Linked DNA regions of Homo sapiens: region 2 is linked to region 1. Evidence: fine-mapped expression QTL. A gene starts in region 1. The other region holds a variant in brackets. All regions are shown on one strand. Distances are from middle to middle. Region 1 holds the start of RBBP4 (RB binding protein 4, chromatin remodeling factor). Region 2 overlaps ZBTB8A (zinc finger and BTB domain containing 8A).

Region 1 (8,332 bases):
AATAAAAGAAAGAAAATTAAACAATTTGCCTAAGATCACACAGCTACTAAGTAACAAGTATGCTGAAGTCCAAATCTGACTTCTGATATGGGAAAGCACAGTGGGAGAGAAGGCCGATTAAAACTGACTATTTAGTGTTCTGAATGCCGTCTTAAGGCATTCTGTACTCCATACTGGGTCAAGGGCATCCACATCATCTGGGAACTTGTTAGAAACGCAAATTCTCACATCTACTCCAGACCCATTGAATCAGAAACTCTAGAAGGTGGGGCACAACTAACTGTTTCACAGTACCTCCAGCTGATTATGATGCATATAAAATTTTGAGAACCCCTGGCCTAGATGGGAAAGATGCTACACAACCAGAATTCATTGGGGTTTATAAATTGACTGCCTATAAAATGGAGAAAGAGAAAATGTCAAACTAAAGCCAATTATGATGAAAAGAAATAGGAACAACAGGAGAGAAAGTTGGGGTAAGGCCTTCACGTAAGGAATAATTCCATTTACAACATGTCAAACTGGGGAAGCCAGTAAGATATACCAGGGAAGACACGGGCAGGCAGAAGAAAAATCAGGAAAAGCTCTGGAGAAGTGAGGTCTAAAGATATCAATAGGAATTCTTCTGCACAGATGTCACAGGCAAAGCTCTGAGAGCTTCTACATTACACTGAAAAGAAATGAAGAGAGATATGAACAGAAAATTGGAATTACCTGTATGTAGAAGGTTAGACAAGAACCAGAAAAAGAATGAAGGAGAGGACAGTGTTACAGAACTACAACCGTGGTTTTTCTTTCTTTTTAAAGGGGGGAAACGGATCTGGGTAAACACCAGAAAAAGAACACACACAAAAGTAAACACTGCATCAGGGCTGCTTGCTTGTAAGTAATCCTCATCTTAAAAAACAAAAACAGGGCCAGGCACGGTGGCTCATGTCTGTAATCCCAGCACTTTGGGAGGTCAAAGTGGGAGGATCACTGGAGCCCAGAAGTTAAAGAACAGTCTGGACAACATAGCAAAAAAATTTTTCAAAAATTAGCCAGGTATGGTAGCGTGTGCCTGTAGCCCCAACTATTCCAGAGGCTGAGGCAGGAGGATTCCTTGGCCCAGGAGGTCAAGGCTGCAGGGAACTCTGATCGTGCCACTGCAACACAGTCTGGGCAACAAAGCAAGATCCTGTCTCAAAAACAATTTTCAGCCAGGTGCACTAGCTCACGCCTGTAATCCCAGCACTTTGGGAGGCCGAAGCGGGTGGATTACCTGAGGTCAGGAGTTCAAGACCAGCCTGGACAACATGGTGAAACCCCATCTCTACTAAAAATACAAAAAATTAGCTGGGCGTGGTGGCGGGTGCCTGTAATCCCAGCTACTTGGGAGGCTGGGGCAGGAGAATCGATTGAACCCAGGAGGCGGAGGTTGCAGTGAGCTCAGATCATGCCACTGCACTCCAGTATGAGTAACAAGAGTGAAACTCCGTCCTCCGTCTCAAAACAACAACAACAACAAAAAACAATTCTCACATTATTTATCTAGATTTGCTAATGCAGAAAACTACTAAGATGACAGTACAGATTTCAGCCTTGGGGAATTAAGTCTTTAATTCTTGCTTTCGAAACCTAGCTAGTCATTCTATTATATTACTTGGGAAGTTTCTGAAAAGTAGGGGTTCTAGAATGTTTAGTAGGTATGGGATGGCCAATATTTGTGATCCACTAGTCCAATAAGCACAATTTAGCATATGACTATAGTAAATGTGGAATCACCATTCCAGTACACTTCTCATTAAGTACTCTGCCACAAGTTCTTTTTCTTTGAGACAGGGTGGCAATCCCTAGCTCAGGCTGGAGTGCAGTAGCAGGATCACAGCTCAATGCAGCCTTGACCTCCCAAGGCTCAGGTGATCCTCCTGCCTCAGCCCCCACTGAGGAGCTGGGACTAACAGGTACGCACCACCATGCCCGGATAATATTTGTAATTTTAGTAGAGACGGGCTTTTCACCATGTTGCCCAGGCTGGTCTGGAACTCCTGGCCTCAAGCAATCTGCCTGCCTCAGCCTCCCAAAGTGCTGGGATTACACGTGTGAGCCACCATGACCAGCCCATAAGTTCCTAAATGGTTTGAATTACCACTGAAAACTCTTGACAGAAATGATTCCAATTATCCTGAATTCCCCAAGCAATTCTGATGATCAATTGCATGTGGGAACTCCTGGTCATGATAAAGAAGCTTCTAGGCCGGGCGCGGTGGCTCACGCCTGTAATCCCAGCACTTTGGAAGGCCGAGGCGGGTGGATCATGAGGTCAGGAGATTGAGACCATCCTGGCTAACACGGTGAAACCCCGGCTCTACTAAAAATACAAAAAATTAGCCAGGGGTAGTGGCCGGCACCTGTAGTCCCAGCTACTTGGGAAGCTGAGGCAGGAAAATGGCGTGAACCCGGGAGGCGGAGCTTGCAGTCAGCGGAGATCACGTGACTGCACTCCAGCCTGGGCAAGAGAGGAGACTCCGTCTCAAAAAAAAAAACAAAAACAAAAAAAAAAAAAAAAAAAAAACCAGAAAACAAAAAACACACAAAGCAGCTTCTAACTCCCAATTTCTAGGTTTTTACTATGGTTTTGTGTAACATCCCTAGGACACATTTCCCTATTTTTCCTTATGCCACTGTAAAGGTAGCAGCCTCATTCTTAAGTTACTAGTATAATTTCTGCCAAATTTCTATCATTTGTTGAGCTACATCATAGTCTAATAACATTTTGCAATTATCTTAACTTTTAAAGATCCAAGTTTTGAAGGAATTTACTTAGCATACAATCGCTTTTGAATGTAATTCAGAAAACTTACTTTTGTACCAGAAAATCCATTATTCCAAATGGCACAATGGTCTTGTTAAAACTATGTTAATATCATCTAAATTTACCCTCCTCTTTGTTTTTTGCATTGTCATTTCTTCCTAAGAAATGAGGCAAATTGAGGCAAATTTTCCTTCCTCTGATAATTTTATCTGTACCACTTTTATGCTAATTATAACTAATTTGGATCCCCGATATGTAGCACCAAATACAGCCCCAATAAATGCAAGCTATTTTATCCCCTCTACTAGAGATAAGCTACCTACACGTAAGAAACATAGGATTAATCTTTTAGCCCTCACTATGCCCAAACCCCTTATAAGAAAGCCATTCCACCTTCAGGTGTTTTCTAGGTACCCTAATTATCTCTCTACAACTGCTGTCACCATATATAACTATAATTATTAGTTTATATCTGCCACTTCAACTAGACAATGTGCTCCTTGAAGGCAGGTACCATGACATACTACGAGAATTCAAATTAAGTTTTGTTGAGGCCAGGTGCAGTGGCTCACGCCTGTAATCCCGGCACTTTGGGAGGCAGAGGCGGGCGGATCACCAGAGGTCAGGGGGTTGGAGACCAGCCTGTCCCACATGGTAAAACCCCGTCTCTACTAAAAATACAAAAAAATTTAGCCAGGCGTGGTGGCAGGTGCCTGTAATCCCAGCTACTTGGGAGGGCTTAGGCAGGAGAATCGCTCGAATCTGGGAGGCAGAGGTTGCAGTGAGTCGAGCTCGCGCCACTGCACTCCAGCCTGGACAACAGAGTGAGACACCGTCTCAAAAAGAAAAACAAAAAATTTTTGTTGTAAGGACTAGACTCATTGTAATACTTTTTTCTTTTTTTGTGTGGGGGGCAGTAGAGACGAGGGTATTCCCAGGGCTGGTCTCCAACTCCTGGCCTCAAGTAAGTCTCCTGCCTGGGCCTCCCAAAGTGCTCGGATTCCAAGTGTGAGCCACTGCTCCTGGCCATAATACTTTTTGAAAGTTGACAAGTTTTGTACTATTATTTGGTACAGCCACTATTATTACAGGTATTATCATCAGCTACAGCTATTTAATTCAGTATTGAGAAAAAAACGCCAATATGTTTTCTCTTGTCAGGTAAGTTACAAAATCATTTTGTTATTTTGCCTTACTTTGTGGCCTAGAAAAAATGTCACCAAGAGGTTTTGATCACATGCCTTCTCCGGGTGACTGAAGAGCGGAAAAAAGAAAATCAATATGAGAAATCTACACTGAAAATACATCAAAATAACGTTCGGGAGAGTCATGTCACCTGGTTACATCTGGAAGCCACTGGGCAGTTAGGCTGGGCCACTCCAGAGCATGGGTCATCACCAAATCATAAAGAAAAGGGGTGTTCTTTTTCCATATTTTGTATTCCTCGTTGATCACTCGTTCTTCCACTGCGTCGTCGAAGGCTGCTAAAATTTTTAAAAACAAATTTAAGTTAGCAAACAAACGGAAACCGAGTAATCCTCTGCAAAGCCACCTGCATGACTCCTACAGCCTAACCATGAAATGGAGGTGATTTGTCTAAATCCCCACGGCAGAGGCATCCACACTCTCCACTTTCGCGGCGCCGAAACTCCTCGGGCCATCCCCGCCAAACACTCCGTTACCCGTTCCAGGCCAAGGGGCCAGCCAGGCCTTCGGAGCACGCTCGTGCGCGCCGAAACTCACAAGCCCGACGAGGAGGCCCGAGCTCCGAGCCTTGTGGGTAGGAAGCGGTGTCCCCACGCTCGGGACAGAGGCCGAGAAACCGATATCGGAGGCAGGAAGAGAAACAAACACTGGCCGGGGGCCCCACCGCTGGCTTCGCCAGCTGCGACCGAAATCGGTCCCAGGGAACTGGCGAGCCGTTAGCACGCCCCGCGGGGAGTTCCCTCTTCACGCCTTCAGTACCGGGGACTGCACTCGGCAAACTCGGGCCTGCCCTCACTGTTAGGCCATGTCGAGGCCGCGGCTCAGCCCAGGCACCCACTGCCCTCCTGGGTCGGCCCCGGCACCCTCACCTTCCTTGTCGGCCATGGCGGGCAGGCGAGCCGGGGGAATCCTGGGGTCGAGCGTTGCGGGAGGGGCGGGGAGGCTGCAAGAGCTCGCTCTGTGCGCGCGGCCTCTATTGTTTCCTGCGCCCCCAGCGCGAGGGCTGACTCGCGCACCTTCGCGCCAACATCAGCCAATGGGAGCGCTCCTAATGGCGGGATGGGCGGGGAAGCCGCGTTCGCGACCAATCCAGACGCGCGGAGTAGCTTTCCGCGGGGACCGAGGCGCGCGCTCCGCCCCTCCCCCCACGCCTCCCCGAGCCGACTTCCAGCGATTGCGCGCGCCGGCGTTGACGGGACTGCGCCCGGTCAGGGTCACGTGAGAGAGGTTTGGTCCGCACACTCCCGCGGCAAGAGGGCAGCCATTTTCTTGAAGGCTATTAAGCTTACGACCCTTTCAGAGTACTGAGATGAAAAATCTAGAATGCCTTCGGGTCTAGTTATCAATTTTGGGGGTGAAGCGGGGGAAAGAACCTCGCCAGTCAGACCCAGACGGGTTTCATTCAAGGTGCCCTTCAACGTTTTTCCTTAGTCTTTGGAAAGAACTAGTAATGAAGGAATCGCAGAAGATGGGGTTTTGGCTTTTTAAATATGCGATCCAAGCGGCAGGGTAGGGACTAAAGTAGGTCAACAGCCAACTCCGAGAAAGGAGTGTGGTCCTTTAAGGGTGTGCGCCAAGGGGCGGAGTCTAGAGCGGAAGTAGTAACTCCGGGCCGAAGTCCGGTGGATGAAGGGCGGAAGTAGAGTGTCTAATCCTGCAGTCATGGCGCAGGAAGAGGAAGATGTTAGAGATTACAATTTGACTGAAGAACAGAAGGCGATCAAGGCCAAGTATCCGCCAGTCAATAGGAAGTACGAGTGTGAGTAGGTGGCTTACTTCTCTCTTTACATGTAAGCACACAGGCATCCCCTCTCCTTACCCGCGGCTTCCTGCTGCTCTTTCTACTGTGCCCCATGGGTACTTCAGGCATGATCCCATTTGTGCCGGCTGTTGTAGTCGCGTTCGTACTTCTCCTGGGGATGCTGAAGGAAAAAGCCACCTGGTTTAATAGTCGCGAAACCTGGCCTCCCTCATTTACAGTCTCTTGAACTTCTTCCACATGTGCCTAATCACATTTATCTTCGTAAATTCTAAAGATAACCATATTTTCAGGCGTTTGCAGGGTTGTTACCCCCATGTATTTCCCAACGGTGAGATTAGAGTGTGCGAGGTTAGAGGACTCGGAAAGCTAATTAGGGGATTTCTAACTTGATGTTTCACCTCGATCATATTAGCAAAAAACCTGGTTTTGCCATTTATGATTGTGATTTTTAAAAATGATTATTTTAGGCCGGGCTCGGTGGCTGAGGCCTGTGATCCCAGCACTTTGGGAGGCCGAGGCGGGCGGATCACCTGAGGTCGGAAGTTCGAGATCAGCCTGACCAACATGGAAAAACCCCGTCTCTACTAAAAATACAAAATTAGCTGGGCGTGGTGGAGCATGTCTGTAATCCCAGCTACTCGGGAGACTGAGGCAGGAGAATCGCTTGAACCCGGGAGGCGGAGGTTGCGGTGAGCCGAGATCGCCCCATTGCACTCCAGCCTGGGCAACGAGCGAAACTCTGTCTCAAAAAAAAAAAAAAATGTGTGTGTGTGTGTGTGTGTGTGTGTGTGTGTGTTTTTAGAGATGGGGTCTCGCTCTGTCGTCCAGGCTGGAGTGCAATGGAGCGATCATAGCCCGCGCTGCAGTGCCCAGCTGGTTTTGCCATTTATTCGCTTAGTGACTTTAGGCAAATCACATAACCTATCTTTGTCTCTTAAATTCTATATTAAACGTTAAGCTGTCATCCCTAAAGGTAGCTGTGGTTTGGGGAGCACAAATCTGACTTTTATTTATCTGCTTAAAATCTTTCATTAATTTCTCATTGTCCTCTCTGTAAAATCTACTTATTTACCATAGTATTCTAGGCAATGTGCTTTCTGGAGCTGGCATACCTCCTAGCATATCCCCTTCTCTCACTTAAAAACAATTTTAAAATATTATAGGCCGTTTGCGGTGGCTCACACTTATAATCCCAGCACTTTGCGAGACTGACGTGGGTGGATCACCTGAGGTCAGGAGTTCCAGACCAGCCTGGCCAACATGGTGAAACCCCGTCTCTACTAAAAATACAAAAATTAGCTGCGCATGATGGTGGGCGCCTGTAATCCCAGCTACTCGGGAGGCTGAGGCAGGAGAATTGCTTGAACCCAGGAGGGTGGAGGCTGCAGTGAGCCGAGATCACACCACTGCACTCCAGCCTGGGCAACAGAGTGAGACTGTCTCAAAAAAAAAAAAAAAAAAAAAAAGGCCTGGTGCTGTGGCTCACGCCTGTAATCCCAGCACTTTGGGAGGTTGAGGCGGGTGGATCACCTGAGGTCAGGAGCTTGAGATCAGCCTGGCCTGGCCAACATGGTGAAACCCCATCTCTACTAAAAATACAAAAATTAGCTAGGCATGGTGGTGGGTGCCTGTAATCCCAGCTGCTTGGGCGGCTGAGGCAGGAGAATCGCTTGAACCTGGGAGGCGGAGGTTGCAGTGAGCCGAGATTGCACCACTGCACTCCAGCCTGGGCGACAGAGCCAGACTCCATCTCAAAAAAAAATTATTTTTAATAGGTCATATATATTGATTTGAAATTCAGAAAGTGTAACATAGGCAGTGAAAAGTAACTCTGGCAGCCCCCATCCTCAACTACCTAGTCCCCCTCTGTAGAGCAGTCATCGTTACCTTTTTCTTACATGTACATACCTAGATGTTCTAGCATTTGCTTTAACCAATTTTCAGTTGATGGACGTTTAGGCTATTTCTACTCTTGTGGTATTAGAAACAGTGCAGCAGTGAATACACTTGTACATCCACTGTTTTGTACATGTGCAAGTGAATCTGTAGAATCAAGTTCTCCAAGTTTTTTTTGTTTCCATTGCTAAGACTCCTACATTTTTTAAAAGGATATTTTAACTTGGACAGTTATTGCCAAATTGCTCTCTATAGGAGTTGTACCAATTTATACTTTCACTAGTATTGTGTGAATGTGCCTCTTTCCTCCCACTTCTACTAATTGTTACCATACTTTTTTATCTTTTCTAATTTGTAAAGTATACTTACTGTATTTTTCTTATTGTAAGTGAAGTTGAACATATTATACTGTTTTGGAAGCTATTTGTATTTCCCATTCTGGGGTGTGTATGTTAATATTCTTAGCCCTTTTTTCTCTTGGGTTATTTTTTTTTTGTCTTGGGTTGTTGGTTTTTCTTACTAGGCAGAAAGTGTTTTTATGCAATGCAGTTCATTAACCAGCGGTCCCCAACCTTTTTGGCACTAGGGACTGGTTTCACGGAAGTCAGTTTTTCCACCAACGGGGGTTGTAGGGGAGGATGGTTTCAGGATGATTCAAGCGCATTACATTTATT
Region 2 (8,332 bases), 46 kb after region 1:
AAAGCAAAAGAGAAGTTTGCTTTGTTTCCAAATTCGTCTGAAGTCTTCTTTAAATAATACAGTAGTATTTTCCTGCCTCTCTAGTATTCCATTTAACTGGAACTAAAGAATGACTTAATTCAATTATTTTATGGAATTCTAAAGTGTAGCAATTGAGCTTTTACAGAGCTTGGAGTGTTCTGGTTCCTTTCTTTAAAAAGAAAATATTAAAGCTTGTAAAATTTCAGTATGTAGTATTTCAGTCACGTATTCATTACATAGTTCTTTTATTGGTTTGAAATACTGTGTGAATTCCCAGAATGCAATACCCATAATCAAATAAAATGCAAATGCATCCCAAAATAAAAATGGGGTATTTTAAGACTACTCATTATTTTATTAGAGTGTCGATATTACTTGTCTCTATTAAAAACCTTAGATAATGGAACATGCAGTGTGTCTTGAAATTTTACAAAAATAAATATTTTCCTGGACTGGACACCTCTATTTTTAAATTTTTCCTTAATGATACGGTTGAGAACCAGTGGACTGTAAGGTCAAATAGTCCTACTGCCTCTCCTTGGCATCTATATGGGGAGGACAGAGGGAAACCTTGAATGGGCCCTATTTTGCATGTCACAAACTTTGGGAAGCTTTTATTTATTTATTTATTTATTTATTTATTTATTTATTTATTTTTATTTTTAGAGCCAAGATCTTGCTGTATCGTCCAGGCTGAAGTGCAGTGGCACCATCATAGCTCACTGCATCCTTCACTCAGTGATCCTAAGGCTCAAGTGATCCTCCCACCCGAGCCTCCTGAGTAACTGAGACTACAGGCATGTGCCACCACGCCCACCTAATTTTTAAATTTTTTGTAGAGACTGCGACTTGTTATGTTGCCCAGGCTGGTCTCAAACTCCTAGGCTCAAGCAATCCTCCTACCTCTGTCTCCCAAAGTGTTGGGATTACAGGCATGAGCCACTGTATCCAGCCTAGGTTTTTTTTTTTCAGACGGAGTCTCGTTCTGTCGCCAGGCTGGAGTGCAGTGGCGCAATCTCAGCTCACTGCAAACTCCGCCTCCCGGGTTCAAGCGATTCTCCTGCCTCAGCCTCCTGAGTAGCTGGGACTACAGGCATGCGCCACCACACCCAGCTAATTTTTGTATTTTTAGTAGAGATGGGGTTTCACCATGTTGGCCGGGATGGTCTCGATCTCTTGACCTCCTGATCCACCCGCCTTGGCCTCCCAAAGTGCTGGAATTACAGGTGTGAGCCACCGTGCCCAGCCAGCCTAGCTTGCAAAAATACTTACACCCAAGCCCCACCTGCCCGAGATTCTGATTTGCCTAGGCATCTGTATTTTAAAAGATCCACAGGTGATTCTAATGTGCAACCAAAGTTGAGGATCTCTGGTCTAGGCAGAAATGTTGTTCCCTTTTTCCCTTATGGGCTGAATAAAAATAAGTTTCTCTTTAATAAAGAAAATAAGTAGTTGTAAGTAATATCAACAAGGAAATAAATGATTTTCCCAAGGGGAAAATCAAGAAACTATATAATGGAATTGTGTATCTGGAAATCTGAAAGAGCAAAGCAGGCAAAGTATAAAATTCTGCTTGCAAATGATCTAGCTAAGCGCAAAGGTAAAGGTAAAGGGTATTTCCCTGGTCTCTGGTTTCCTTTTTTCTTTTTGAGACAGTCTTGCTCTGTCACCCAGGCTGGAGTGCAGTGGCGTGATCTCAGCTCACTGCAACCTCCACCTCCTAGGTTCAAGCAATTATTGTGCCTCGGCCTCCTGAGTAGCTGGGATTACAGGCATGCGGCACCACGCCAGGCTAATTTTTGTATTTTTTATAGAGATGGGGTTTTACCATGTTGGCCAGGCTGGTCTTGAACTCCTAGCCTCAAATGATCCGACCACCTCGGCCTCCCAAAATTCTGGGATTACAGGTGTGAGCCACTGTACCCAGCCTCTGGTTTCCTATTTAAAGGTGAGAAAGTATGCAACGGATTTTGATGGTTTGAAGAAAAAAAAAAAAAAAGAAAGAGTAGGGAAAAGTGTTATACTATTTCAGTAATTGCAAAATATTTTGACTTCAAGATATTTTGACTTCAAGAGTCCCTTTGCTTCTATTGCTGTGTGGTTCATTACTTGTTAACATTATATTTAAATATTTTACTTTTTTGGTGGCATTAATACAGTTCTGTGGGGAGAAGGCTGACGTGAAAATGAAGTTTACAGATTCTCGGTGGATTTCATTTTTCTGGCCTATTCATAGGTCCATTAGCAGGAATAGTTAAGAAACTCCTGTATCAAAATTATATGTTACTTATACTTCACAATATATAAAACAGCTGGCTATATACTACCATTTCTGTGATAACTTGAATTTTATCATTAAAACTCTTGTAACTAAAGGCACCAGTGGCCCGTCTGTAACAGCCGCTGCTGCGATGCCAGCTGCAGTGAGGGAAACGCAGCTGAGGCTCACGGCTCCACGAAGCCCACAGGGGCTGGCTACAGGCAGGAGCCCTGCCCCTACTGAATCGGCAGGGCTGGAGTCCCACACTTCTGGGCACAGCTGCAGCCGCCCAGCTGCGGCTCCAGACCTGGGCATCCCTGCACTCTTCAGGGCTTGGGAAGCTCCCAGCGCCCACAGGCTCAGAAGTGCCTGCTCCCATTCCCTGGCCTCTTTCTGCTCCTGCACCTGCTCTGTTGCAGAGCAAAGTTGGGCCAAACCTAGGTGTTGTCGTGACCTGGCCAGGTTGAGCATGCTAGAGGTGGCACTGACACGCCAGCCCCCTGCCACCTCAGCCCCCTCTAAACTTTGGGCACCCATGTGCGTGGGAGGGAAGCCAGTCAGGGGGTTGATGACGGTGGCTTGGTTTGGGCCTGCAGGCGCCCCTTGGCACAGTCTGGGCACCATGGAGGGCATGTTGATGGCAGGAGGCAGACAGGTTCCTGGGTGGAAAAGGGTGGGTTCCCAGTGAAATCCCCCCTTCAAGCCAGGGAATGCCTGAAGCCTGGGGGTTGGTCTGGCAGTTCCTGGTGGAGTCCAGGGCTAGAGTAAGAACTTGTGGTGTTTTCTGGGCTGCCCATGGACACCCACAGACCAAGCAGCATGCACTTCCTCCCTTCTGAGCCCATAAAAACCCCTGGTCTCAGCAGACTCAGCCGGCTGTCAGGACTACCAGCTGCAGGAAGGAGCTACCCGCTTTGAGTCTCCTTAAAAGGACCTGCCTGCAGGTCTCCTCTTGGGTGAGAGCTGGTCATCTGGACACTCATCAGGTCGACCTGCCTGTGGAAAGGAGCTATCCACTTCGGGTCTCCTGAGAGCTGTTCTGTTGCAGAGTGAAGCTCCTCTCTGCCCTGTGGAAAGGAGCTACCCACTTCAGGTCTCCTGAGAGCTGTTCTGTTGCTCAGTGAAGCTCCTTTCGGCCTTGCTCACCCTCCAGTTGTCTGCGTACCTCATTCTTCTCGGATGCAGGAAAAGAACTCGGGACCCACCAAATGGTGGACTGAAAGAGCTGTAACACAAGCAGGGCTGAAACATGCTCCCTGCTCACCACGTTGTGGGCGACGAGAAGGAGAGAAGAGCTGCAGCCCTTCTGGCAGCCCAGACCTCGGGGCTCCCTGAGCCATGGTGTGACATGCTGTAACACCCTCTTTGGGGGTCTGCAGTTCC[C/T]GGCATCTCTGAGCTTTCGGGCACCACTGCGTTCCACTTGTCCAAATGCTGATGCCCGCAGCGGAAGCCGCTTTCAGTACGTCTGGTCCCGCTGCAGCCTGGCATGGAGCTGGTGCCTGTGCCAGCGCCTAGAGCTGTCCACCCCACTGCAGCCAGTGTGCCTGGTTGTGTGCAGTGGCCGGACCCCACGCTAGCTCACTCACACACCCGTCACTCCGTGCCTGGCTCACCCTCGGCAGGCATGAGATCCAGGCTGGTACCACCAGTGGACCACAGCCTGCCAGTCCACATGGGTGGAATGAGCCCAGCAGGCACAAGCAAAACCCAAGCAGAGGAGCCACCGGCCAAGAGGTTTCTGGCTGGTGGCAAAGCAACACCCTAAGGATCCTGTGACATAACTAAAGTCACATCCTTTACATAACATTTATTCCATATAGAATGTATCCACATACAATGACGTCAGCTTTAAAACAATCCACTGTTACTTATATAAAATCATCTATAAAATAGAGTGATACACAACACACCTCAGTGAATTAGGCTGATGGTCTAGGATTCAGAAAATGTGATCATTATATTTCCTATTTTTTGCTACCATTTCACTGGGTTGTCTTAGGTTCTTTTTTTTTTTTTTTTTTTTTTTTTTGAGGTGGAGTCTCGCTCTGTCACCCAGCCTGGAGTGCAGTAGCGTGATCTTGGCTCACTGCAACCTCCGCCTCCTGAGTTCAAGCAATTCTCCTGTCTCAGCCCCCAGAGTAGCTGGGATTACAGGTGCCCACCACCATGCCTGGCTAATTTTTGTATTTTTAGTAGAGAAGGGGTTTCACTATATTGCCCCAGGCTGGTCTCCAACTCTTGACCTAAAGTGATCCACCCGCCTTGGCCTCCCAAAGTGCTGGGATTACAGGTGTGAGCCACCACGCCTGACCCTGAGGTTTTTTTACTGTTCTGTGCCTCAATTTATTTACCGTTCATGTGGGATAACTGTCCTATTTCATATATATGTAAAGAATAACAAAAATTATTAAACACTTTGCAAATATAAAATGCTATATAAATGATAAATAGTAATACTGATACACTTATATAAAATAACAAAACTTTCTGGTTTATAATCTAAAGTTTGGTCCTCCTGTACCTATTATTCTATTATTATCACCCTTCCCAGTTAAACACATCTTTTTTTTTTTTTTTTTTTTTTTTGATGGAGTCTCGCTCTGTCACCCAGGCTGGAGTGCAGTGGTGCGATCTCGGCCACTGCAACCTCCACCTCCCGGGTTCAAGCGATTCTCCTGCCTCAGCCTCCCGAGTACCTGGGATTACAGGCACCCACCATCATGCCCAGCTATTTTTTGTATTTTTACTAGAGACGGGGTTTCACCATGTTGGCCAGGATGGTCTCGAACACCTGGCCTTAAGTGATCCGCCCGCCTCGGCCTCCCAAAGTGCTAGGATTACAGGCATGAGCCACCGTGCCCGGCCAGTTAAACACACCTTATCCTACACTGCTTTTAGTGATTTTCCATACTTATTAATTTTAGGACTAAAAAAAATTTTAAAAACCAATATGAGTGGAAATTTCAATATATCTTGGCATGACTTGGCAAAATAACTTTAATGAATTGAGTTCTGAGCTCATAAATAATTGAAGCACCAAACTTCTTTCATCCATTAGGCAGTACTTAGCCGTACAGAAAACAGTAACTATGCTTATTTTGATTGCATTACTGAAAATATAATATTGAAACATTTGTTCCTAAATTTTAAAAAGTCTTAAGATCTGATACCCATAGAAGGAACATCATGTGCTAAGGATGTGATTTGCTTCACTAAGAGACCATATGGTTACCTGCTTATAAGCACCGTGAGTAACAGGAGTAACGAAATGAGGCTGCAAGGCTCAAAGGGAATTCAGGAAGTTGTCTAATTCCATGGTTTTCAACATTGTGCACCTGAGTTCTGCAGAGGTGTCTGGGGAAAGGTTTGTGGGGGACTTTAACCACAGCAGCTCTGATTTTAGAGTTTATCCCTTAAATTTGAGCATCTTTAGGAAACAATTCATTTGAAGAGTTTCTCGGGTTAAATTATTTTAAACTGCAGGTCTAGTCCATTTTGTTTCTCCCAGACACTAGGCATGACTGCAGTGGTGCTTTCTTTTTGTAATGCTTCATCCTATACCCAGACACTCTTGAGGGTAATGGAGTTAGAAGGGCATTCAGAAGCTGATAAATGGCATTCCTGCAAGAGCAAACTTTGGTCTAACCAAGTCTTGATATTAAAAAAAAAATCCTTGGCATAAATAAAGCTTATTTAAACAGATTATACCCCTATGTAACATTTGCCCACATGTAAAAACCAAAGAATTCAATTTTCTCAATCATCAATAGACAGTTTCACTCTAGAAAATAACTGGTCTCTAACGTCTTAGATATATATGCTATAACTGGAGTCATTATTTACAACTTACAAACATGTCTTAAATGTTCTTCTATGATGTTAAAATGATACAACAGATTCTTTGTCTAGTTTGGTGAACTTGATCATTTTGTGGGGATAGTTTGATGCTCGTTATAAACAATTATGAGAAAGCATTATTTCTGAAAAGGCAATTACAAGTGCTGGTGGCACTGTGTTCAGTGAATGTTGGATATTCATGCTGATGTATGTAAAGTTTGCATGCAGAAGATAATAGCATAAAAGGACATTTAGATCATAGACTAAAGTGCATTAGAGTACACACATGCAAGCACTACTTCATTTATAGGAAAAAAGTTCAAATCAGCCATTTTTCCTACTGGCTCCAACAACTAAAAAATCAGGTTTTAATTTCAAAAGGTGTCAGTATTAATTGGGTAAGACTAGAGAATGACAAGCGTTTCCTTCCTCATTCAGATACACTTTAATTGTTAAGAATCCTGATTTAGGCCGGGCGTGCTGGCTCACGCCTGTAATCCCAGCACTTTGGGAGGCTGAGGCGGGCAGATCACGAGGTCAGGAGTTCGAGACCAGCCTGGCCAACATAGCGAAACCCTGTCTCTACTAAAAATACAAAAATTAGCCAGGCATGGTGGCACATGCCTGTAGTCCCGGCTACTCAGGAGGCTGAGGCAGGAGAATCGCTTGAACCCGGGAGGCAGAGGTTGTGGTGAGCGAGATCACGCCACTGCACTCCAGCTTGGACAACAGAGCGAGAGTCCATCTCAAAAAAACCAGAATCCTGATTTAGGAACAGCCATGTTGGGAGAACAGAGAACTCAATGCACATCATCCAGTCTTGAAGCAACTGCAAATGTGCCATCAGGGGAATCTTGAAAAAGTCTCAATTAAGTACCATGAAACAAGTGGTTATTCATCTATTTTTAAATTTTTTAAAAGAAAGTAACCAATTTAGCCTAGAAATTGGTATCAAGGACAATAATTAATGAAAGAACAAGAGAAAATAGTAACATAAAAAGGATAATTTTGAGGTATGTCATGGCATTTAAAAATACAGTAAAATTGGCTGGGCGCAGTGGCTCACGCCTGTAATCCCAGCACTTTGGGAGGCCGAGGGGGGCGGATCACGAGATCAGGAGATTGAGACCATCCTGGCTAACACGGTGAAACCCCATCTCTATTAAAAATACAAAAAATTAGCTGGGAGTGGTGGTGGGCGCCTGTAAGTCCCAGCTACTCGGGAGGCTGAGGCAGGAGAATGGCGAGAACCCGGGAGGTGGAGCTTGCAGTGAGCTGAGATTGCACCACTGCACTCCAGCCTGGGCGACAGAGCGAGACTCCGTCTCGAAAAAAAAACAAAAACAAAAAAGAAAACAGTAAAATAGATGGAGCCTCTCCATATACAGTGAAATTCTATCAAGCTTCACTGTGATAACTTGCAGAAGAGACCTTTATGAAGCTCAGTTCTTTACTTCGGATATTTAGATTTTACCTTTAGAACTGAAACAATGCTTCTCTAATTTAGCTGTAATTTTGGAATGTTTCATAATTTATGCAGGGGAGAAGTTTTTTTTTTTTTTTTTTTTGAGACGGAGTTTCGCTCTTGTTGCCCAGGCTGGAGTGCAATGGCGCAACCTCAGCCCACCGCAGCCTCTGCCTCCTGGGTTCAAGCTATCCTCCTGCCTCAGCCTTCTGAGTAGCTGGGATTACAGGCATGCACCACCACGCCCGGCTAATTTTGTATTTTTAGTAGAGACGGGGTTTCTCCATGTTGGTCAGGCTGGTCTCAAACTCCCGACCTCGGTGATCCACCTGCCTCAGCCTCCCAAAGTGCTGGGATTACAGGCGTGAGCCACTGGGCCCAGCCCAAAGGGGAGAAGTTTAAACTTTGTATACTAGGAGAAAAGTTTGTTTTGAAAATATTATATAAACAAGAGAAGCAAAAATGTTCAACATATTTAAGTGAATAATTTGTTCAAATAGTTTTATACTTTAAATTTACATATAAATAACGTGACATAAAAACATACCAATAGGTACTGTAGGGACATTACTTAGCATTATTTGAAAATCTCTAGATCAAGATATTGTATGTTGTTGAAAATGATTCAATTCCTCCTTTCATACTTTCTAATTCTGATTGGCTTATTTTTATAATGACTGCCAACTGGTGAGGTTTGACTTCTATTCTTTGCCATTTCAGGAGACATACAGGGAGAGAAGGCTGAAAGA

The links. PIP is the estimated chance that this variant, and not a neighbour inherited with it, causes the effect.
Region 2: its variant is fine-mapped to the expression of RBBP4 in monocytes (TOPMed, PIP 0.90).

Annotation. Positions count from the first base shown.
Region 1 is chr1:32,647,860-32,656,191 of GRCh38, reverse strand. It overlaps RBBP4 (RB binding protein 4, chromatin remodeling factor), which reads right to left and starts at 4,984. Exons shown (of 12, transcript NM_005610.3): 1 at 4,870-4,984; 2 at 4,131-4,278. The coding sequence starts at 4,885. ZBTB8OS (zinc finger and BTB domain containing 8 opposite strand) reads left to right here and starts at 5,642. Exons shown (of 7, transcript NM_178547.5): 1 at 5,642-5,759. The coding sequence starts at 5,663. RefSeq lists enhancers at 4,336-4,435, 4,596-5,184, 5,185-5,772, 6,906-7,045 and a silencer at 4,736-5,305.
Region 2 is chr1:32,601,683-32,610,014 of GRCh38, reverse strand. It overlaps ZBTB8A (zinc finger and BTB domain containing 8A), which reads right to left. Exons shown (of 5, transcript NM_001040441.3): 5 at 4,074-8,332. It overlaps LOC102723870 (a long non-coding RNA gene), which reads left to right. Exons shown (of 3, transcript XR_426677.5): 3 at 688-1,466. Among named protein-coding and RNA genes, the nearest start is that of ZBTB8OS, 45 kb to the left of the region's middle. RefSeq lists an enhancer at 2,935-3,435. The variant C/T (reference allele first, on the strand shown) is at 3,665.